Linked DNA regions of Homo sapiens. The protein of the gene in region 1 interacts with the protein of each later gene in a biochemical or structural test. Each region holds a gene or a part of one and is shown on either strand. Other genes may lie near its edges.

The links.
Region 2: the proteins of VPS41 (region 1) and MON1B form a complex in vitro, tested with the Homo sapiens proteins (one study listed by BioGRID).
Region 3: the proteins of VPS41 (region 1) and PLEKHM1 form a complex in vitro, tested with the Homo sapiens proteins (one study listed by BioGRID).

The regions. Positions count from the first base shown.
Region 1 is NC_000007.14:38,737,873-38,745,306, forward strand, and holds part of VPS41 (vacuolar protein sorting-associated protein 41 homolog), read right to left. Parts: intron 5,671-7,434; coding exon 5,530-5,670; intron 4,250-5,529; coding exon 4,113-4,249; intron 1-4,112. UniProt on the Homo sapiens protein: Plays a role in vesicle-mediated protein trafficking to lysosomal compartments including the endocytic membrane transport and autophagic pathways. Acts as a component of the HOPS endosomal tethering complex.
Region 2 is NC_000016.10:77,193,934-77,201,367, reverse strand, and holds part of MON1B (vacuolar fusion protein MON1 homolog B), read right to left. Parts: intron 7,034-7,434; coding exon 6,214-7,033; intron 5,834-6,213; coding exon 5,686-5,833; intron 3,261-5,685; coding exon 3,060-3,260; 3' UTR 1,917-3,059; coding exon of another isoform or gene 1,856-1,916; 3' UTR 1-1,855. Other genes in the region: SYCE1L (synaptonemal complex central element protein 1-like), read right to left, coding at 1,856-1,916.
Region 3 is NC_000017.11:45,452,390-45,459,823, reverse strand, and holds part of PLEKHM1 (pleckstrin homology domain-containing family M member 1), read left to right. Parts: intron 1-1,384; coding exon 1,385-1,655; intron 1,656-4,943; exon of another isoform or gene 4,944-4,993; coding exon of another isoform or gene 4,994-5,009; intron 5,010-5,551; coding exon 5,552-6,469; coding exon of another isoform or gene 6,470-6,534; exon of another isoform or gene 6,535-6,890; intron 6,891-7,434. UniProt on the Homo sapiens protein: Acts as a multivalent adapter protein that regulates Rab7-dependent and HOPS complex-dependent fusion events in the endolysosomal system and couples autophagic and the endocytic trafficking pathways.

The DNA.
Region 1 (7,434 bases):
CTAGGCAGGTGTTGGCCTAAAGGCAATTCAGCTTTGTACCCAATGCCTTAGATCCAGTTAGCCTTAAGAATGTCTGCAGCCCCTAAAGCATCTAAGATGGACGTTTAATCTAGCCCCTGCTCCCTTTTATTTTTCTGGGGAAAACAGAGGTCCAAGGATGTGCAATGACTTCTTCAGGATCATCTACAACTTTCCTTAAGGGTTAGACTCACACCAGGGACTCATGAGGCTTAGCCTGGTGAGATTTCCACTGCACCATGACACCTCTTTAGAAGCAAGTTAAACATGCTTGCTATTTTCTTTTCCCAAGAGGTGTTACCCATAATGAAAAAAACTAAGACCCCACTCTAATTAGCAGATTTTTTAGAGATTACTTGTGGCTGTAAAAGGTAATGTAGTCACTGATTTAAAAAAGGCATGAGATTTAGTCAGAGGATCTGTGATCTGTGTTCAAACCCAGTTCATCACCTTCCCAGACTGGCAAATCACTTAACTTTTCTGAGAGACAACCTTCTCATCTGTAAAACAAAGATGATATTTCCTACAGAAGTGTTGTGAAGATTAAATGTTTGTCAAATAAAACCGTCAAAAGAAGTCTTTAAGAACAAAGATGCTGAAATTCTCAAGGGAAAAAAGCCTCCAACTACAAAAATGGACATAAACGCTCAACAACTACATGCTAAATTTATAATGTTTTAAAAATAGAAAATGTAAAAACATTAGAAATTTGTAGCATAAACTGGAAACTGGTCAGTTTACATAAAAACTGAAGTATAATTGATACCATATTGTTTTGGAAGTTATATCAAAATAAGTGCTATTTGTCCTTGAAATCAGGCCTAGGAACATTTAAAGCTTATGAAGTGCAATACATGCCACTTGCATCTTACTGACTTCATGAAGCTTTTAAAATTTGTGCAGTGATTACACTAACAAGGTAGCCGGGTATAAAAACATAGAAAGTTAAAGAAATTAAACACTGCTGATGTAGTTGATTATACTACTTCCTTAAACTATGTCATGTCATAGGCATCTAACAAACCTAATGATGCTAACCTTCGGTTGAAGAGAGCTGTTACATTTTAGAAAACGTGAAACTAAAAGCAGAAGAGTTACTCATTTCAAGTTTTTCCCACAACATTCTCTAACCCGCTTTTCCAATTAACAACTGGCTAATGAATGATCTCCCAAAGCAGTGCCCAAGTTTTAAATGCTGTATACTCTATTGTCAATCTCCCTTTAGAGATTCCCAATGCATACCAGCAAGAAAAGGTGCTGAGAAGCCCTGTGAGAACATTTCCCCAACATCTGACCATAGATCCCTACATTACTGAATGGTTCTTGATAGCCCCTGGGGTTACTGTCCCACCCAGCCCCATCACACACACAGTCACTTCCAGATTCCTGGAAATTGATGAACATGCAAAATTTCTCCCAAATTTTCAGATTGAATAGGGTTGCTAATTTTTTACTTTGCTAGGTGAGAGTATGTGAAAAACAACATAGTTTTATAAAATACAAAATAAAAAAAGAATAAAATAAAAACATGCAAGTGAAATCCTTCTGGAAATTGCAAAATGCTCTCTGGATAGATTTATTTTTACAGTGAACCCTAATAGGTTGCCTAGAGAAAGGAAACACATTAAGCGGTCATTAATACATTATGTAAAAAGAGCAGAAAAATATTTTAAACTCTTTATCTGTGAGGGAAAAATAATGCCTGGAATTCTTTGAACCACCTGCCCCCGGAGAGCATTTTCTGACTGCATTCTCCAACAAGATGCCTGAGCTCCAGTGGGGACTCCAGATGCAGCAGCTTCCACAGGCTCTGCTGCCTTCCCTGTTCATCTCTCCCTCACCCTCTGAGAAGCCACCCCTTGGTTGGGGGATTCACAGGCAACCACAGCTTTTTGGACCCACTAGCTAAATAATTCTGAACCTCCTTAACACATTACCGAACTACATACTTACATATCTTAAGGAAAAGCTCTAATTAAGAAAAAATATTTAGTAGCTTCTTTAGTAGATATTTTTATGTTAGGCATTCATTTTGCATCTAATAATAATTTCATTTTTATTACCAGCTGACTCAGAATGATGCAAATTTATTTATTAAAAATGAATGAACACTGAGATCACAGTGGTGCCCATGAGCTTGGTTCTCTGGAAGAATGACCTAGTCATAGGGATGCACTATGTGGTCTTGCAGTCATTGCGGAGGCTGGCGAAAAAGAAAGGCACAACTTTTAACCTAGTGCAAGCTTCTTGCACTACAGCTGAAAGGCAGAGGGATAATTATTTACTACTTCCCTTGGGGGAGGGTTGTTCAGAGACACCTAAATGACTTCTCATCAAATGTGGATTTGAAACCTAGAGCATATCCTGGCATGCCTGGGGTTGGTAAGGGTCAATGAAGTAAAGGTCATTATCAAGCTCACTCACACTCAGAGGCTTATAAGTTCTGATACTGAAAACACTTTCACCAAAGCCCAATCTGACCTTCAAAATTAGTGACTTCCCCAGGCAGGGACGTCACCTTTCTGGATTCCTAGGGCGTGGCATGAAAAGCCAGCTCCTCACCTCACCTCTCTTTGCCTATTAACCCATTCCCATATTTTTATTTCCTTCTTGACTTTCTCATTCTCCTTCCAATAACCTTTCTCCTGGGTCATCTGCAAACCTCCAAATCCCACTGGAAATATATGCCTATATATCGTTAAGCTTTTTGCGGAACAGGTAATCTACTTCTTTGGCTTAACGAATACCAATTTCTCTCCCATGAACCCAATTTCCCACAAAGCTCTCCGGAGTGAAGGCTGCATGATCTCTCACACCCCCACCCCCATCTTTAGACTTCTTCACTTTTAAAGTCGTGTTGTCCAGTTAATACTACTGTCCCCTGTGGAGAAGCTGGAGCCTGGCTTAGAGCACCTTGTTTCTTCCTCCTGGCCTTCATGTCCATTAGGATGACTCAGAAAGGCTGTGGCCTCAGTTTCTCTACTAATTCTACACAAATGACCTTTACCATCATCCCACTTTTTGAACACGTATACACCATGACTCCGCTTCAGAAACATTAATGACATCACACTCTCTGGCACAACCTCTTGTCCCTGCAGCTCTGCCATCCCTTTCATCTCTTACATCTGTTTTTGATGCCACCAATGTTCCTGCAATATCTTCTCCTTTCCACCCTGCCTCTTACCTAAGGCTGTCACCCTGAGTGCAGGCAGACCTCTACTTTGCAACCTGCATGGTGAATCCTGGCCCAATGGATCTCACATCATAATGCTCCTCAGCTAATAGCCTTTTCTTTTGGCTTTACCTGCAAAAATTGTTTCTAGGAAAGTAATTTCATCCATTATTAATAAAACCTCATTTTCAAGTAAATTAGAGGAAGAACAACAGTCCGAATTTTTAAGGAAATGTTTTAATTCAAGTTCTATAGAAGTTACCAGCATCCTGAAAAATAGTAATTGCTAGAGTCTTTTTAAGGAAAAGATTAAGATGCTTTGTAATTAGTATAATAATTTATATGAAAATAATGAGTTCCACTGTTCTTATGACAAATTCTGATTTAACAAGGATAATAAAGTTGCACTATTCTAGAAAACAGACAAAAGGTTAAATAAAATCCTATATTTTAACAGCTTTCAGGCAACAGACTACTGAATGGCTTCAAGAAAAATTATTACCTTACTGAAAAACATTTTTGTTAATTCCCTCAAACGGATACAATACTTATTCTCCCTAAAAATGTTGGGGTGGCCCGATCTAATGGCCACTATAACTGCTTTCATACTCGCCTCGATTCCATGTTATATTAACCATACAAATGTAAGAATGTCTGCTCAAAAACAAGTGAAAATTGGAGATGGCTAAAGAATCAAATAGCCTTCTTAAGGCCTTTAAGGTATTACTGGACAACGCAATTTTAAAGGTGATGTTTCTAATTACTCTATTTGAACAGTTTTCTAAATATCTGGGCCTAAATAAAATGTAACCATAAAATCGAAAGTTTTTAACTGATACCTAACATAAACCCTAGAAATATTTATCCAGTACTAAGTCAACTAATTCAGATGCTCATTTGTCCAAGAAAGGATACTTACTTGCAAATTGTAGTCTTGCAGAATTTTAACCAAGGAATCTCTCAAATTGGGGATCTCCATTCCTTCCTTAATACGGTGAATCAGTAGAATTGGGTCAACATGTGTGCCAATGTTGTTTAACAAGCCAGTAATAAATGCTACAAAATACCACATAAAACAATGAACATATAAGCAACATTATAATGCAATTTTATTTGCACATAATTTGCATATAATGCAATTTTAGATCAAAAGTAACTCAAAGAAAAAATTATTTCCTTCAAAGTAAGTGTTAAAACCATTTGAATTTCTAAACTCTTAAGAATTAATCTTCTAAACTTCCAAGAACTAACGCTCCTTAAGACATGAAGGAGAAAGTAAATAAGAACTGTTTTAAAACAGTTGAACAAATGATTACTTGCCTTCAAAATACAGTTTTTAGCATCAAATGGGTGTAAATAATATTTATTGACAACTGACTATGGCTCAGGTATCATATACACTTTCCTCAAATACTGTGCAAGGTAGGAATGCTGTGTCCCCATTTTACAGACAAGGGAAATGGGGTGTTTAATTTTTCCAGGGTCACACGGCTAATAAGTAATGTGCCCAAATTCACTCAGGCCAGCCTCAAGTTTATGATATGTTCTGCCACATCACTTTGCCTCTTGAGATCCTTAAACTACTACTTTATCTTGCTAGTTACAAGTGAGATTCTTTATATTGTCAAGAGGATAGTTATTAAAGTCAATTTCAGATTAAGGTAGTTACATGAACACAAAGACTTCCTACCAAACTTAAAAAAAAAAAAAAGGAAAGAGGAAATTTCAAATCACTACTGCTAGTTATTTTCAAAAGAGTTGGGTTTCTGTTAGGTGACTGCTTTTGTTTTTTCCTTTCCAAAATGGGAGACCCAATGCAAACAGTCAAGCTGAGGACCAACAAATACAAACTCTGGGTGTTGTACTGATAAAAATAGTGCAGGAAAGAGGCTAAATACTACAACACAAACATCCAAATATCATCAATGTCCAGAACAGTTACATGTTTCCAAAAAAGACTGGTAAGGTCTATACACTTAAACTATAAACACTCCCATATACAAGCTAAAAACAAAAAAAAACCACACCAACACAACCCAGATGACATTTATTCAATTTGCTTGCAGCAGGTAAAAATATGCCTCATGGGGACACAATTAATAAACTGTGTAGCCACCTGTTCTTCATCACATGCAGGTAATGCAAAGTGATGAGGCTCCAGGTTTTCCAGCACAGGAGGAGTATTGGAAATCATTACAACACACCTGGCCTATTTTTATTGTAGGTACGCTACCATTTTCTTAACCCAATGTATCTTGAAATAGTTTTTAATCTAGACATAACTGGTTACACTGAGAGAAAAAAAAGTTATAACCAGAGATGGCTTTTATGCTTACGTGGTTTGTCAATGGAATATAAAATCAAATCTTCCCACAGCTCTCCATCATCTTGCTCCTTGGCAAATTCGATTGCTTTATCAACATCATGTAATTCCTCCATAATCATCTTCAGGGCACTTCGGCTATTACCCATTCGGCCTTGGTGGGGTGAAGATGGGAGAAAGAGTTCATTTAAGGTATTTTAATAATTTTTTTAAAGAAATTGCATATCTCTTAATTTGTTTACATAGGTGGAAAGCTAAGACAAGGCTATTTTCTCATGTGACACCAACATTTACTGTCTATAACATAGCAAAATAAGTATCTCCTATTTACTGGATATTTACTCTGTACTGAGTACTCATTTAAGTGCCTCATATAAATGACATCATATAACCATCACTACAACCCTATGAGGCATGTTCTACTAATATTCCTCTTTTATAGAAGAGGAAATAGAAATGTTAGTAGCTTGCTAAGATCATACAGCTACTAAATAGTACACTGTGAATTTGAAGCCAGGTCTGTCATACTCTGACTTACTTTTGATAGACTTATATATATTCTGGAGGTCAATACCTTCACATGCAGATACACTTAAAATGTTTAAAGGCCCTAAAGTCATTCTGCCTCATGAGGTAGCTGTGCATACTGCTTTTCTGATACACTTTGTGCCAACTGCAAACTCAACTATCAGAGGGCTTCCTCATTTTCTTCTCTCCCACGTTCAGGGGAAGGCCTTTCAATAACCCTCATGAGATGAAAGTATTTATCAACCATGCCTTCTATTGGCTAATTGTCTTTACATACTTTGCTCACTGACCTATGGCATTTTAATAGTTTAAAGTTTTCCATGAGTTTTTAATATAGTGCATGTAAGAAAGCCTTACTCAGTGGAGGGACAACAACTGCCTGGTTGTAGGTTGTCACCCTTACCCCTGTCTCTGGGCTTGCAGGAACTAGTAAAGGATCTTGAATCCTTCCCCCTGCACACGGCCATTATCAACTGATAAAAGCTGGCTTGTGAATGAAATGATATCCCATTTGATACCCCTTCCACAGCATTTTGTGTTTCTTACAAATATTATTTCCACAGTTTATGTCTCTAAAAATGGTTAGTTATTTAAAAATGTTTACAGGATTATCAAGTTTTTATAAAATCAGACTATATGTCCCTAATAAGTCCTCTACTGCTTCTAAGACAATATGACAAAAATTTATTCCACCAAAATATTTCTTGGGGAGAACACTGTTTGGAATTAGTGAATTGATGAGCTACCTAAAATTGTGATTAGAACCCCAGGAACATGCTGAAGTAACAAAATGCAGCCCCAAAAGCACTTCTCCTAAGAAGGGCAGGTGCTATAACTGGACAGTTCTGGGTTTGTGGCTGAGCACCCATGAATCTGCATACACATAAAAGGGAATAGAGGATTTGGATTATTTTTCAACAGAGGCAAAGAGGCCAATGAGAGTGAGTGCTGTATAAGGGAAAGGCGTAAAGCGGAAAAACCCTACTGAGGTCAGCAGGGAAGTGACAATGGAGAAACACCAAATATGAATGTTATGTTATATGCTACATTATGCAATCCTCAGTACAACCCACATTGTTGTCATGCACGTGGCTCATTTTGGAAGAATGTGAAAAGATGACAAGTTTTGTTTCTTGGTATGCATGGTACAAAAATTGTGACTCATGTGGAGGTAGGAGCCAGAAGACCAGGAACACTGACACCTAGATTATATTAAAAAGCTCTCCTCCTTCTCCAAAACTATGGTATTCAATTGCATTTCCTCTAGTTATTTAGGGTGTGATTTCTAAAAGTGATTATTTATTTTCTACCAATATGATGGTAATATAAGCTGATTATAATTTTTTAGAAAATGAAAAAACTTGTCAACTCATCTACAACTTAATCTATG
Region 2 (7,434 bases), on another chromosome or scaffold:
TAACTTTAATTTTGAGGAATTTGAAAGGTTGATACTAAAATTTTTTTTTTAATTGCAGTGGCAGCTGCATTACACAGTTAATAAATGAGATCTATTTGCATCTGTCTTATTTCCGTCTGTCTTTTGTTGAATGCTGGCACTTAGTATGTGCCTCTAATCTAAAAGAGCTCTCTGCTCTTGAAGTTATTTCATTGGTCACACATTAAAAAATTACTGAGCACTTACTTTACACCAAGCAGGCATTGTTTTAGGTGCAGGGGAGCGAGAGGTAAACAGTCTCTGTTCTCATGGAGCTCACATCCTAGGTCAGGCAATAAGCAATAATCATTACTTTGATGTCTGTATGGGTAGGTCTGGCAGGATGCAGTCTAATGTGTTTGTTAATACAGTGGTTTAAAGAGTGTGCAGAAAGGGGTGTTCGAGATAGATAAAAGTGGGGCAGAAAGGTGACAACAGTTAAAGCATACTGATAGGTACACATGGGCTTTGTTTAAAGCTATTTTCTCTACGTTGGTACACTTTGAATATTTCTATAACAAAAAAATGCTAGTGGCATACAAATGCATGACTGCCTTGGGAGATTTTTTTCTTTTTGTTTTTTCTTTTTTTTTTTTTTTTTTTGCTCACTCTGTCTTCCGCGCTGGAGTGCAGTGGCGCAATGTCAGCTCACGATAACCTCTGCCTCCCGGGTTCAAGCAATTCCCCTGCCTCAGCCTCCCCAGTAGCTGGGACTACAGGCGCCCGCCACCACACCCGGACAATTTTTGTATTTTTAGTAGAGACGAGGTTTCGCCATGCTGGCCAGGCTGGTCTCAAACTCCTGACCTCAGGTGACCCACCCGCCTCGGCCTTCCAAAGTGCTGGGATTACAGGCATAAGCCACCAAGCCCGGCCAAGGGAGAATTTTTTTTCTTTTGAGACGGAGTCTCACTCTGTCACCCAGGCTGGAGTGCAGTGACATGATCTCGGCTCACTGCAACCTCCGCCTCTCGGGTTCAAGTGATTCTCCTGCCTCAGCTTCCTGAGTAGCTGCGATTACAGGCCCACACCACCGCGCCCGGCTGATTAGTGTGTGTATATATATATATATATACACATATATATATATATACACATATACATATATATATATATACACACACATACATACATACATATAAATACACATACACACATATGTATATGTATATATAGTTTTTTAGTAGAGATGGTGTTTCACCATGTTGGTCAGGCTGGCCTCGAACTCCTAACCTCGTGATCCGCCCGCCTCGGCCTCCCAAAGTGCTGGGATTACAGGCGTGAGCCTCCGTGCCCGGCCTGAGATTTTTTTTTCTTTTGGATGGAATACAATTTCCAATAGTGTCTAGGCCGACACCCCTCCACCCTCCTTTGCCTGTCATTCAAGTCAATACCCTGGAGAAAAGAGGCTGTGGGGGAGGCCATGTTCGATTAGGAGGTTTAAGAGTCCATCAAAGTGTCATATGTGTTAGGTGTGAAATGGCGACACTGGGAATTACTGTTAATAAGGGGTGGCTGCAGCACGGTGATTGTTATGAGAACATCCCCACCGCCCCACTTTTGTTTGAAGACTTTCGTACTGAACTACATGTTGTTTACTTTCAACAACGTATACACTACAGTTGACAAAAGTTAATCTCGGTGATAAGAATATGCCTGTTAATTTATCTCCACTGTGCTGAACGGTTAAAAAATTGTTTTTCTTCAATAACAAAAGGCTTAACATTTTATTTAAAAAAATTAGAATATCATTATTTCATTATTGTAATGGGACGAATCCTCCCTCCTTTCTGCCCTGGTTGGAGAGAAAGGAGTGCAGCCCACTTGCCCTCACTACCTTCAGCCTCCTCAGTAGCTTCTGGCGCCTCCACATTCAGAGGTTTCAGCTTCCCCGCCATTTTCCAACGCGGGGCCTGCGCGCGAGCCTCGCTTGATGACTGGTTAAAAAAGAAACCACGTGAGGGTGAAAGGCTTTTCAGCACGCATGCGTGCAACCCGCGGTTACGCCAGCGGTTAAATCAGGAGTCAGCTCTGGGCAGGCGCAGAACACACTGCGGCCCTGATTGCCAGCACACATGCTACAACCTTGAGGCTGTAACTCCACAAACAAGGGCAGAACTAGGGTAATGGCCAGTTGGGGAGTGAGGGTAGTGTGCACACACACAAAACCCTAGGGAGGTCTCTCCTGCTTTAGGCTGCTTGTCTTGTGCAGGTTGTCAAAGTCTGGGACAGACGTGCATGTGCTATGTGGTGGTACACAATAGTTCGAGTCTGTTTTCGTTTACAAATCCTCATCAAAGAGTTCATGAGAGAGGGTTACTTATCTCTGTTTCACAGATGAGTAAAACGAGGCTTAGAGGCTAAGTGCATCTCCTATGTAAAAATGCTGGATTTCAGCCACTGTGTGCAGTCAGGTGCTGTGTCCTGGGTTCCACAGGTGGACACTGAAGGCCACCTTCTCATTAATGTTAGCAGCAGCCAGCATTGAGGGCGGGTCATTTCTGGCAGGGTAAAGATGAAAAAAGTACAAGAAGGGCAAAGGAATATCCTTGTGGGTCTTACTTTTAGGCCTTTTATGTAGTTTTTTTCTTTAAAATACCCTCAGGCCAGTCCCAAGCATAGCCTGGCCCTGAAGTGCCAATTCCAGCACCCCCGTGGGCCACCCTAGACACCTTGGCCAGATCTGGACACTCAGGGCTGAGATTCAACTAGGAGGCAGACCACGGAAGCAAGTTTGGAGGGGACAGTCCCTGACAGAGGCTAGAGCATCATCCAAGTGGAGGAGATGAGACAGAGGGAAGGGAGAGGGAGGCCTAAGGATTTCCCCAGAGGGGGAGGTGCATGACTGGGCAGGGAAAGCAGCCTGCTCGCCTGGCGGCTGCCACCATCTCTCTCATCGGTGGGCCCTCAGACCTTGCCCCATTGCTTAGGGAGACAATGACTGGCCACAGACACACCCCCACACACATTTCCAGGGTAGACAGAAGGTAAAAAACAAAGGTGGTTGCTCCCAGCACTGCCTGGTCTGGGAGCTCCAACTATCAGAGTCCAGTGAACAAGCCATTATGGGCAGCTTGGTCCGTAGAGGTGGCTGGTGGTGTGGAGTACTTGGGTGGGTAACGAATGAAGAGCCGGTCCTCCTCTTTCTTCACCCAGCGCAGGAGTTTGGTCACTACCAAGATTGCACCTGCCTTGGTCACCAGAGGGCTGAGGCAGGTATAGAGCTCGAATTTGGAGGTCACCTGGGGGTTTCGGAGGAGACAGAGTCAGATGGGCCAGAGCTGGCTATGGACAATCCTGCCTACCCCAGTGCAGCTGCATGTCTGCCTCCTGCAACCTGGAACATGTACCTGGCAGCACCTCCTACCAGGTGCTGCCTAGATACTGGGCTAAGGTAGGTAAGCTGATATTGTGCAATTTCAGCTGGACCTAGTGACTTCAACTGGATGATGCTGGTTGTGTGTGTGGGTACTCTCTAGACCTGTTTGCTCATTGGGAACTGGGGAAAACAGTAACAATGTTTAATATTCTGTCAGTAACCTATTGTGTACAAGGTCCTGCTCTAAGCTCCTACAACTATGTTTTCATCATCTACAGCCAGGGAATAATATAAAGAGGAACTCAATTTATGCCTCATACCACATGGAGAGGCCTGACCCCACAAGGTCACTAGCGCCTTTCCTGTGCCACCTCCCAGAGCGCTCCCCTTCACTCCCTCTGCTCCGGCCACTCTACCCTTTCCTTGCTATTCCTCAAACATAGCCAGGCTTGGTTCCACCTCATAGCATATCAGTCCTTTCCCTCTGCCAGGTGTACTCTTCCTCCTAATATCCACGTAGCTCAATACCTCCCTACTCCACTCAGATGCCATCTGCTCAGGGAGGCCACCCTGATCACTTGGTTTAAAATTCTGCTCCTAACATATATTTTGTTTGTTTTTGTTTTTTTGTTTTTGACGTAGAGTCTTACTCTGTTACCCAGGCTGGAGTGCAGTGGCACGGTCTCGGCTCACTGCAACCTCCGCCTGCCAGGTTCAAGCGATTCTCCTGCCTCAGCCTCCCGAGTAGCTGGGATACAAGCGCATGCCACCACATCCAGCTAATTTTTTGTATTTTTAGTAGAGATGGGGTTCCACCCTGTTGGCCAGGCTGGTCTCGAACTCCTGACCTTGTGACTCGCCGCCCACTCCCCCCAACTCCCACCCCGACTCAGCCTCCCAAAGTGCTGGGATTATAGGCGTGAGGCACCGTGTCTGGCCCATATCTTGGTTTTAAAATTCCAATCTCTACTAAAAGGTATAAGGGCTCCATGGAAAAATGGCTGAGTTGAGGACTGGAATAGAGAAAGTCAAGTAAGATGTGCTCACATAGTGAAGGGGACGTGTCAGAGACACAGGGATCAGCCTGGCTAAATCAGGGTACCCACCGGCTAAATCAGAGGCAATCTGAACACCAAAATAAATGCTAGAGAAGGATTTTAGCTCACTGAATTAAAGAAAAATCCATGAGACAATATTGATAGAAAATTAAAAATTCAATAAATAGGAGAAGGAAAAGTTATTCCTTTTTGTTTTTGAAATGGAGTCTTACTCTGTCGCCCAGGCTGGAGTGCAGTGGCGCGATCTTGGCTCACGGCAACCTCCACCTCCCAGGTTCAAGCGATTCTCCTGCCTCAGCCTTATGAATAGCTGGGACTACAGGTGCGCACCACCACGCCCAGCTAATTTTTGTATTTTTAGTAGAGACGGGGTTTTGCCATGTTTGCCAGGCTGGTCTCGAACTCCTGACCTCAAGTGATCAGCCTGCCTCAGCCTCCCAAAGTGCTGGGATTACAGGCGTGAGCCATCACGTCCGGCCCCATGTTACTCTTTATAGTAAAATCCCAGCCAATAAATGTAGAAAGAATGATGGAGTTAGGAAAACCACCATCTGACCAGGCGTGGTTTTCACCACGCCCTTTATAACTCTTTATAAATATAAATATAAAAACTCTTTATATTGTTTTTGCAGCTTCTAAGTCTAAAGTTATTTGAAAATGAAAGTTAAAAAAATTTAAAAACAAAATTCTTAGCCTAGGACAATACCTGATCCACAGCAGTCACGCAATAAATTAATAAATATGCATTACATGGCAGGTGCCATTTCTGATGAGGCCTCCTTCACTGGCCTCCCTTAGTAGCTGACCTTTAGCAAACCCATAGGAAGTGAGGGCTGGAGCCCAGAGGAGACCAAAGGGAAGGATACCCCAGGTGGAGGGCACAGCAAGGGACCACGCCTGTAGTCTGAGGAGTGCTGGGGACTCATGGAGTCACAATGAGCTGGTGATGAATGGGGTGCCTCCAAACACATGGATTGGGCTACTGGGGAATCGGCAGGCACAGCAGTGGTAGTTAATGGGGCCTCTGGAAAGTCAAAGACACTGTCCTGGTTGCTAATCTGGGAGAAGCACACAGGAGGGTGAGGCTAATGTCGGATTAGAGACACGGTCATTAGTTGTCAGGGGCTTCAAAGATGTGTGTGTAAAGGCAGGGACAGTGTTGCAGGCAAGGCACAGCCCAGCCAGAGGCCTGCTGTGTTTGGTGGAGGCACTGTGGCTGGAGGGGATACAATATAGGGAAAGGAGGCTTGAAGTGGGGAATTAATTCACTCAGAGCCCTGCCCAACTTACCCAGGCCAGTAGTGTCTCCTTCTCAGCCACGTGGTAAATGAGGCGCAGGGGTCGGGAGGTGCTGTGGAGACGAGCATGCAGGCGGTGGTACAGGTCCGACAGCCGCTGCCGCTCCTCCTCTCTGCTGTAGGGGGCCTCTAGCTCAGGGCTGCCATGATGGAGGGAGGTGGAGGACAAGGTTAGTCCAGGGCCTTCTTGGCTGGCCCATTTCCTCCCTCAGTCTAGAGATTTCAATGAAGTTAGGGAGCTGAGCCTCTCCCATGAGACTTGAGGATTCTCAGGGGTTGGAGGCTGACCTTCCCTCATCAAACTAGGAGATTCCCTGAGTACTAGGGCCCTGCTGTCCACCAGAAGAGGGGGATTCCTTTAGGTCTGTGGCTGATGCTCCATCATCAGACAGAGACTTGTTCTCTTCCCTCTTTCTTAAGCATGGCTGGTTATCTCTCCTGAGTCACATCCCTGAGATGCTGAACTTCCTGGTTTGACAGGCCTTCCCACCCAGCCAGTTGCCTTAGGGTCAGGGCCTACCTGGTAAACTGGGGCAGTTGGCGGTGGTGGTCAGGGATGTCCAGCGGCTTATACAGGAAGTGCCGGAGGCCCGGCGCCCCGACAGCCTGCACGCTGTAGGCAGGAGCACTGGCTGATGAGGCATTAGAGAAGCTGGCAGCCTCCCCAAGGGCACGCATGGCACCAAGGGCATGCATCCCATCTTCAACCAGGCGCCGGCAGGCGGCCATGGCATGGAAGGCTTCACGTTGGGTGCCAAGCAGCAGCAGGCAGACAGGCATAGCATCCAGGCGGGCCACGTAGGCGTAGAAAAAACCATCAGGGTTGAAGCGGGGCAGGCACACAGGTGCCCAAGCCTCACCCGCCGCAAAGGCTGGTGCACCCACCCAGTCGAGCAGCAACTGCAGGTCAGCTGGGTCCAGCCGGCACTCGGCCAGCACATTTCGCTCCTGGGCTGCTGTTATAAGTCGACCGCCTACTGCCAGCACTGACAGCGCCAGGCCAGGCGCTGTGCAACGTCGGAGGAGCGCACCTAGTGCGTCTCGCAGCGGGCGGGCAAGGGGCACACAGCGCACGGCACCCAGGAGCAGGGCTCCTGGGTCCTGCTCCATACTGTCCAGAAGTCGGTCCAGTGTGCGCTCTGAACCAGCCAGCAGGCGGCGGAGGTCATAGTTCTGCTTGTGTGCGAAGATGCGGGCGACACTTGCACGTGTAAGTGTGCTCACGATCTGTGCGTGCACAGCTAGCAGCTCCCCCCGCAGCTGGGCTGCTGACTGAGAAGTCCGTGACATGGCCACGAGCAACAGTGGGCCCTGTTGTAGGAACACCAGCTTGTGGTCCTCTAGGGAAGGAAGGGGTAAGAAGGGGGGGTACAGCTGGATCAGGAATGACCAGAGGGAGACAGTGGGGCTCTTCTGCCCTCTCCTACCATACACACACCAGGCCCGAGTCCACATGCTCACTCTGTGGGCACCTGGACTGGGGTAAGGACAAGCTGGAGGAATCTGGACATTTGCAGAGACATGATGGGATGGACAAAGGAACAAGTAGGTTAGATACACAGCAAAGACCACGGGCAGGCGGGTAGAGATGGTACAAGGGCTGACACAGAGCCAGAAAGACACAGCTCAACCACACAGCCCCCACAGTTATCCTCTCAGGTGACACAGAAGTATCCAGCTAGTCACTGAGATCCCAGCAAGTCAATCACTAAGAAACCAGCAGGCCAGACAGAGATGAACC
Region 3 (7,434 bases), on another chromosome or scaffold:
TTTAAGACAGACAATGGATTTCAGTAGATTCCAATGGATTTGGATAGATTTCCCAAGGAGAGAAATTGGAACCCTCGTACATTGCTGGTGGGAATATAAAATGGTGCGGCCACTTTGGAAAACAGCTTGGTAGTTCCTCAAGAAGGGAAACATAGAGTTACACATGACCCAGCAAGTCTACTCCTAAGTATATACCCAAGACAATGAAACATGTCTACACAAAAACTTGTGTATAAGTGATCATAGCAGCACTATTCATAATTGACAAAAAGTAGAAACAACCCAAATGTCCATCAGCCGAGGAGTGGATAAGCCAAATGTGGTGGATCGAGACAATGGAATATTATTTGGCAATAAAAAGGAATGAACACTTAAACATGCTTATATAACATGGATGCACCTGGAAAACCTCCCACTAAGAGAAAGAAGCAGGCACAAAAGGTCACGTGTCGTATGGTTCCATCTATATGAGATGTCCAGAACAGGCAGGTGTGTAGGGACTGAAAGTAGGTAAGTAGGTGCCTAGAGCTGAGAGTGGCCAGGGGAAATGGGGATGACGGCTAATGGGTACGGGGTTTCCTTTTTGGGTGAGGAAAATTTGCTAAACTTAGATGGTGGTGACGATTGCCCAACTCTGACTAAGCCAAAATGTTTGAATTGGACACTTTATTTATTTATTTTTTTAGAGATGGGGTCTCATTCTGTTGCCTAGGCTGCAACCAGGCTGGAGGGCAGTGGCGTGATCACGGCTCACTGCAGCCTTGACCTCCCTGGCTCAAGCGATTCTCCCGCTTCAGCCTCCTCAGTAGCTGAGACTACAGGTGTGTGCCATCACACCCAGCTAGTTATTTTTTGTAGAGATGGGTTCTCACTGTGTTGCCCAGGTTGGTCTCAAACTCCTGGGCTCAGGTGATCCTCTCACCTCAGCCTCCCAAAGTGCTGGGATTACAGGTGTGAGCCACCATGGCTGGCCGAATTACATACTTTAAGTGGGTTAATTTTATGATATAAGAGCCATATCTAGATAAAGACTTAAAAAAAAAAAAAACTTCAGGCTGGGCACAGTGACTCACACCTGTAATCCCAACACTTTGGGAGGCCGAGGTGGGTGGCTCACCTGAAGTCAGGAGTTCTAGACCAGCCTGGCCAACATGGTGAAACCCCGCCTCTACTAAAAATACAAAAATTAGCTGGGCATGGTGGTGGGCGCCTGTAATCCCAGCTACTCAGGAGACTGGGGCAGGAGAATCGCTTGAACCCAGGAGTCAGAGGTTGCAGTGAGCCGAGGTTGCGCGATTGCACTCCAGCCTGGGCAACAGAGCGAGACTCCGTCTCAAAACAAAAAAACTTTAAAACAAACAACTGTTGTCTTCTTTCCCAACAGAAAAACAAGAGCTGGATCTCAGAGGATGACTTCTACCGGCCTTCCCGGGAGCAACCCCTGGAGAGTGCTTCAGACCACCCAATAGCTTCTTACAGGGGGACTCCAGGGTCAAGGCCTGGTCTCCACAGGCATTTTTCTCAAGAACCAAGAAAAAACTGCTCCCTGGGGGCGTTAGACCAAGCGTGTGTACCTTCCCCAGGAAGAAGGCAAGCCCAGGCAGCCCCATCCCAGGGGCATAAGAGCTTCCGGGTGGTACACCGGAGACAGATGGGTAGGTTACCAGGAGGGTCCCGGGTGGGTCCCATCTGCAGGGACCAGGCCTTTCAGAAGGCAGCTGTGAAGTTCTGTTTTCCATTGCTAAAGGGGTAGTGTGTTCCCACAAGTGTTATAAAACCTCATTCCAGAATGCCATCATAATCATGTTCATTCAGGGAAGCATTTCAGGAAAAGTAGTATATTGTCTCAAAACTGCCTACAGAGGACAAAAATACTGTTTCACCAGTCAAATAGGAAAATATTTTCCCTGAAAACTATGCAATTTATGATTATAGAAAACTCTTGATTCCACCTGTAGCTCAGAGCACATCCGGCCCCATGAAGCCCCAGGTGTTTTAAATGGTCCTTCCAAACGTGTTTACCCTCAGTAGTTGGTTTATGTAACAGCTCTGGGTGGCTTGATCAAATCTGCTATTTGTTTTGTTTGTTTGTTTGTTTTGAGATGGAGTCTCCCTTTGTTGCCCAGGCTGGAGTGCAGTGGCATGATCTCTGCTCACTGCAACCTCAGCCTCCTGGGTTCAAGCAATTCTCCTGTCTCAGCCTCCCAAATAGCTGGGATTACAGGTACCTGCCACCACACCTGGCTAATTTTTTTTTTTTTTTGAGGTGGAGTTTCCCTTTTGTTGCCCAGGCTGGAGTGCAATCATGTGATCTCAGCTCACCACAACCTCCGCCTCCCGTGTTCAAGCAATTCTTCTGCTTTAGCCACCCGAGTAGTTGGGATTACAGGCATGAGCCACCATGCCTGGCTCATTTTGTATTAGTAGAGACGGGGTTTCTCGAAATTGGTTAGGCTGGTCTCCAACTCCCGACCTCCGGTGATCCACCCCGCCTCGGCCTCCTAAAGTGCTGGGATTACAGGCATGAGCCACTGCGCCTGGCCAATTTTTGCATTTTTAATAAAGATGGTGTTTTGCTATGTTGGCCAGGCTGGAGGATCTGCTATTTGTTTAATGTCCTCCAGTGCTTCTTTTTTTTTTTTTTTTTTTTTCTGAGGCAGAGTCTTGCTCTGTCACCCAGGCTGGAGTACAGTGGTATAATCTCAGCTCACTGCAGCCTTTGCCTCCCAGCTCAAGTGCCTCAGTCTCTCCAGGAGCTGGGATTACAGACATGCACTGCCACACCCAGGTGATTCTTGTATTTCCAGTGGACATAGGATTTTGCCATGTTGGCCACACTGGTCTGAACTCTTGGCCTCATGTGATCCACCCACCTTGGCCTCCAAAAGTGCTGGGATTACAGGTGTGAGCCACTATGCCCGACCTCCCCAGTGCTTTTTACAGCAAGGTCAGCTTGATCTCCACACACTGAAATTCCAGAAAGCCTTAAATAACCATAACCAAATTTTTCAGTAACCTTCATGATGGGTTTCCTCTTCAAAACAAACAAAAAAAGTACGCTCTAGAATTGGTCTCTTTCTCTCCTCATTTTCTGTCTGCAGTGACCCAGCAGAGAATCCTGCCCAGCTCAGGGGGCCTTGCTGTGGGTAGCCCTGGCATGGGTTGTGTGGGTAGAGCCCGGTCTCCGGGCTGGCTTCTGTTAGGTTTGTCTGTTGGCCCGTGTGATGGCTGTGGTCTCTAACCTGCCAGCGAAGCTGTGCTTCAGGTCTAGGCCATCAGGTTTCTTGAGGGGCAGGGAACCCCCATAGAATAGTGTGAAATCTCCAAGGCTATTCCAGGCTGGCGGAGAGAGAATTGTGTGTCCTTTGGACACCCTGGTTGTTGTCACACCCCAGGCAGCAGGGAGCTGTGGGCAACATGTGATACATAGGCACTCACCTGCTCATTCATTCAGCAAATATTATTGAGGCTCTGTGATGTGCCAGGCACTGTTCTAAGTGCTGGAGACATAGCAGGCAGCAAAGCAGTGTCCCTGTCTTCATGGGATTTAGATTCTAGTAGAGGAGACGGGAAATAAAATTAACAAGTAAGCATAGTGTGTGGTCAGGTGGTCATAAGTGCTATGGAGGACAGTAAATCTCTACCTGTCTACAGAGGTAGAGAGTGGACCACTGCATATAGGATGGCCAGAAAAGCCCTCACCAATAAGGGGATGTTTGAGGAGATGCAAGGGGAGAGAGGGAAGGAGTCATGAGGCAATGTACGTGTTTCAAGCAAGGAGAACAAATGCAAAGACCCTGCGCTGGGGCTGCGCTTGACACATCCAGGGACAGTGGAGACCAGAGTGGCAGGAGAGAGGAGATGGGGGCGTGGCAGTGAGCGATGAGGTCAATCTGACGAGGCCTGTGGGCCACTGGAAGCACTTTGGCTTCAGCTAAGGGAGATGGCCGCCACTGTGGAGTTTTGGGGCAGAGGGACATGCTCTGACTTCCCTTTAAATGGGTCATCATGGCTCCTACGCTGAGGGACTACAGGGGAGAAGGGGAGAAAGACCAGTTAGGAGGTTGTCATCACAAGCCAGGCCAGAGATGACAGTGGGTGGGGTGCAGCTGGGGAGAGGCGGGGATTCCGGATGTGTGGAAGGCAGAGCCAATGGGATTTGCTGATGTAGGCTGCGAAAGAAAGAAAACCTGGGGTAACACCAAGATTTTTAGCCCAGGCATCTGGAAGGATGAATTTTGCTATTTGGTGAGATGAGGACCATTCAGGAGGAAGCAGGCTGGCAGCAGGAATTCATCCTGGACATGTCAGCTGAGATCCTAGTGGACATGTATGGCACAGGTGGATATATGAATGTGGATTTCAAGAACAAGGTCCAGGCTGGCGATAAAAATTGGGAGCTAAAGCCTGAGAGCAGGTAGAGTGGTGAGAAAGTGGCATCTACAGAGAGGAGACAAGGACCCAGGACTGACATCTGGGCACTCTAACGTGAGAGGCCACAGGGAGGACCGAGCCAGAGAGATAGAAGGGTGGGGGCGAGGGCTGAGGAGTGGCCTTGGGGTTTGGCAACGAGGAGGGCATTGACCATCTCAGAAACAGTGTCAGTAGAATGGGGGGAGAGAAGCCTACTTGGAGCAGGTTCGAGAAGGAATGGGAGCAGGGAAACTAGAGACCAAGAGGTTTTTTGTTTTGTTGAGACGGAGTCTCACTCCTCTGTCACCCAGGCTGAAGTGCAGTGGAGTGACCTCAGCTCACTGCAATCCCCTGCCTTCCCGGTTCAAGCCATTCTCCTGCCTCAGCCTCCCTAGTAGCTGGGATTACAGGTGCTCACCACACCTGGCTAATTTTTGTATTTTTAGTAGAGACGGGGTTTCACCGTGTTCACCAAGCTGGTCTCAAACTCCTGACCTCAAGTGATCCACCCACCTCAGCCTCCCGAAGTGCTGGGATTACAGGCATGAGCCACCGCTTCCGGCCAAGATGAACAGTTTTGATGCCTCTTCAAACAGGTTTTCTGTAAAGGGGCCTGAGAAATATGGTGGTCATTAGGGAAGTGCATGGAGACGAGAGGTGTTTCTAAAGATGGGAGAAATGACAGCGTGCATGTGTGCCGATGGGAGTCACCCCATAGAGAAGGAAGAAAGCAGTGACAGAGGAGAGGACTGCTCCTTGTCCTTGAGTAGTTGGCCAAGGGAGAGACCTCCTGCACAAATGGAGGGTTTGGCCTCACGCAGAAAGAAGCACACTTGGTTCATCCCTGGCAGCAGGAGGGAAGGCGTGGGTGTAGGGAACAGGGCGTGTGGAGGGGATCTTTTGGGTGCTCTTATTTTCTCAGTGAAATACAGGACGCAAGAGCAGCAGTGGACGGTGAGAATGGGGATGTTCCCATCCAGCTTTCAGGGTCCCATGTGATAGTGCCCCGTGGCTGGCCTGTGTTCTGGGGACAGTCACTGGCCACATGCACTGCAGGGCATCAGGCAGCAGAGGCTGCCTTGGGCAGGACAGAGACAGGCCCGCCAACTAATGTGCCCCTTTTTGCCTCTGCCTCCAGGACTGTCCAACCCATTCCGGGGTCTCATGAAGCTGGGCACCGTGGAGCGGCGGGGGGCAATGGGCATCTGGAAGGAGCTCTTCTGCGAGCTCTCCCCGCTGGAGTTCCGCCTCTACCTGAGCAACGAGGAGCACACCTGTGTGGAGAACTGCTCGCTGCTTCGCTGTGAGTCTGTGGGGCCAGCCCATAGTGATGGGCGCTTTGAGCTGGTCTTCTCTGGCAAGAAGCTGGCCCTGCGCGCCTCCTCCCAGGACGAAGCTGAGGACTGGCTGGACCGGGTGCGGGAGGCCCTGCAGAAGGTCCGGCCTCAGCAGGAGGATGAGTGGGTGAACGTGCAGTACCCAGACCAGCCTGAGGAACCCCCCGAGGCGCCCCAGGGCTGCCTCTCTCCCTCAGACCTGCTCTCGGAGCCCGCGGCCCTCCAGGGCACACAGTTTGACTGGTCGTCCGCCCAGGTTCCAGAGCCAGATGCCATCAAGGAGTCCCTGCTGTACTTGTACATGGACAGGACCTGGATGCCCTATATATTTTCTCTGTCCTTGGAGGCTCTGAAATGTTTCCGCATCAGGAACAATGAGAAGATGCTGAGTGACAGCCACGGCGTGGAGACCATCCGGGACATCCTGCCAGACACCAGCCTTGGGGGCCCATCCTTCTTCAAAATCATCACGGCCAAGGCTGTCCTGAAGCTGCAGGCCGGAAACGCCGAGGAAGCCGCCCTGTGGAGGGATCTGGTCCGCAAAGTCCTGGCATCCTACTTGGAGACAGCCGAGGAGGCGGTGACCCTGGGCGGGAGCCTGGATGAAAACTGTCAGGAGGTGCTGAAATTTGCCACCCGGGAGAATGGCTTCCTGCTGCAGTACCTGGTGGCTATCCCCATGGAGAAAGGCCTTGACTCCCAAGGCTGCTTCTGCGCAGGTGCCGATTTGCTCTGCTGCCACCCCCAGCCTGCCAGCCTCACTCCACCTCCTGCTGGTTCCTGATTTAGGCTCCCCACCCTTCTGCCTCCCCGCAAATGCCCCCATCCTTCCCCTAGGGATGAGGCCACAGATCAGGCTTGCCCTACAGCTTCTGCTCCTCCCCAGCCCCGGCTGGGGCCAGTGCCCTGCTCATAGGCAGTGGGCCCTGCTCACCCGTCCCTCTCCTGCCACCTCCCACTGATGGGCGGCAGGCTGGCTACTCACTGCGCTGCTCAGGGAGTCCCAGCCTGCTTCATTTTCTTCTTGCTCTACCGTCCTGTTCTTTCAGAGCAGGGGCATGGTTTCCTTCCAAATATTTCTGCTGCTTTTATAAGTGTACACCCTTTTTTTTAATTATAAAAATGGGCTCGTGCTATTCAGTGCTGTCCAATAGAACTTTCTGTGATGATGAAAATGTCCTAGATCTGTGTGTCCAGTGCCATAGCTGCGAGCCATGTAGTGCTACCAGGTGCTTAAAGTGTGGCTAGTGTGGTTAAGCAACTGAATTTTCTATTTAAATTCATTTGCATTTAAAGGGGACACACGGGGCTCTTGGCTGCTGTGTTGAATGCTGGATATATTGTTCCACAACTTGGTTTTTTCCTACACTGTGGATGTTATTCCAAGTCAGTACATCTGCTATGTCTTCCTCATCATCAAATCTAATACTTCTGTGCTGGGCACTGGGCCAGCTGCTTTATTTGGATTATCTCATTTAAGTCTCATAACAACCCTGTAGAGATAGGCGCTACTATTATCATCTCTGTTGATAGGGGAGGAAACTGAAGCACAGAGCTGGTAAGTACCTGGTTGGTGTCTGCTACTGAGCTCACACAGCTAGTAAGTGGCAGAGGCAGAATTTTCCTTTTTTGTTTGTTTGTTTGTTTGTTTTAGTAGAGATGGGGTCTCCCCCTGTTGCTCAAG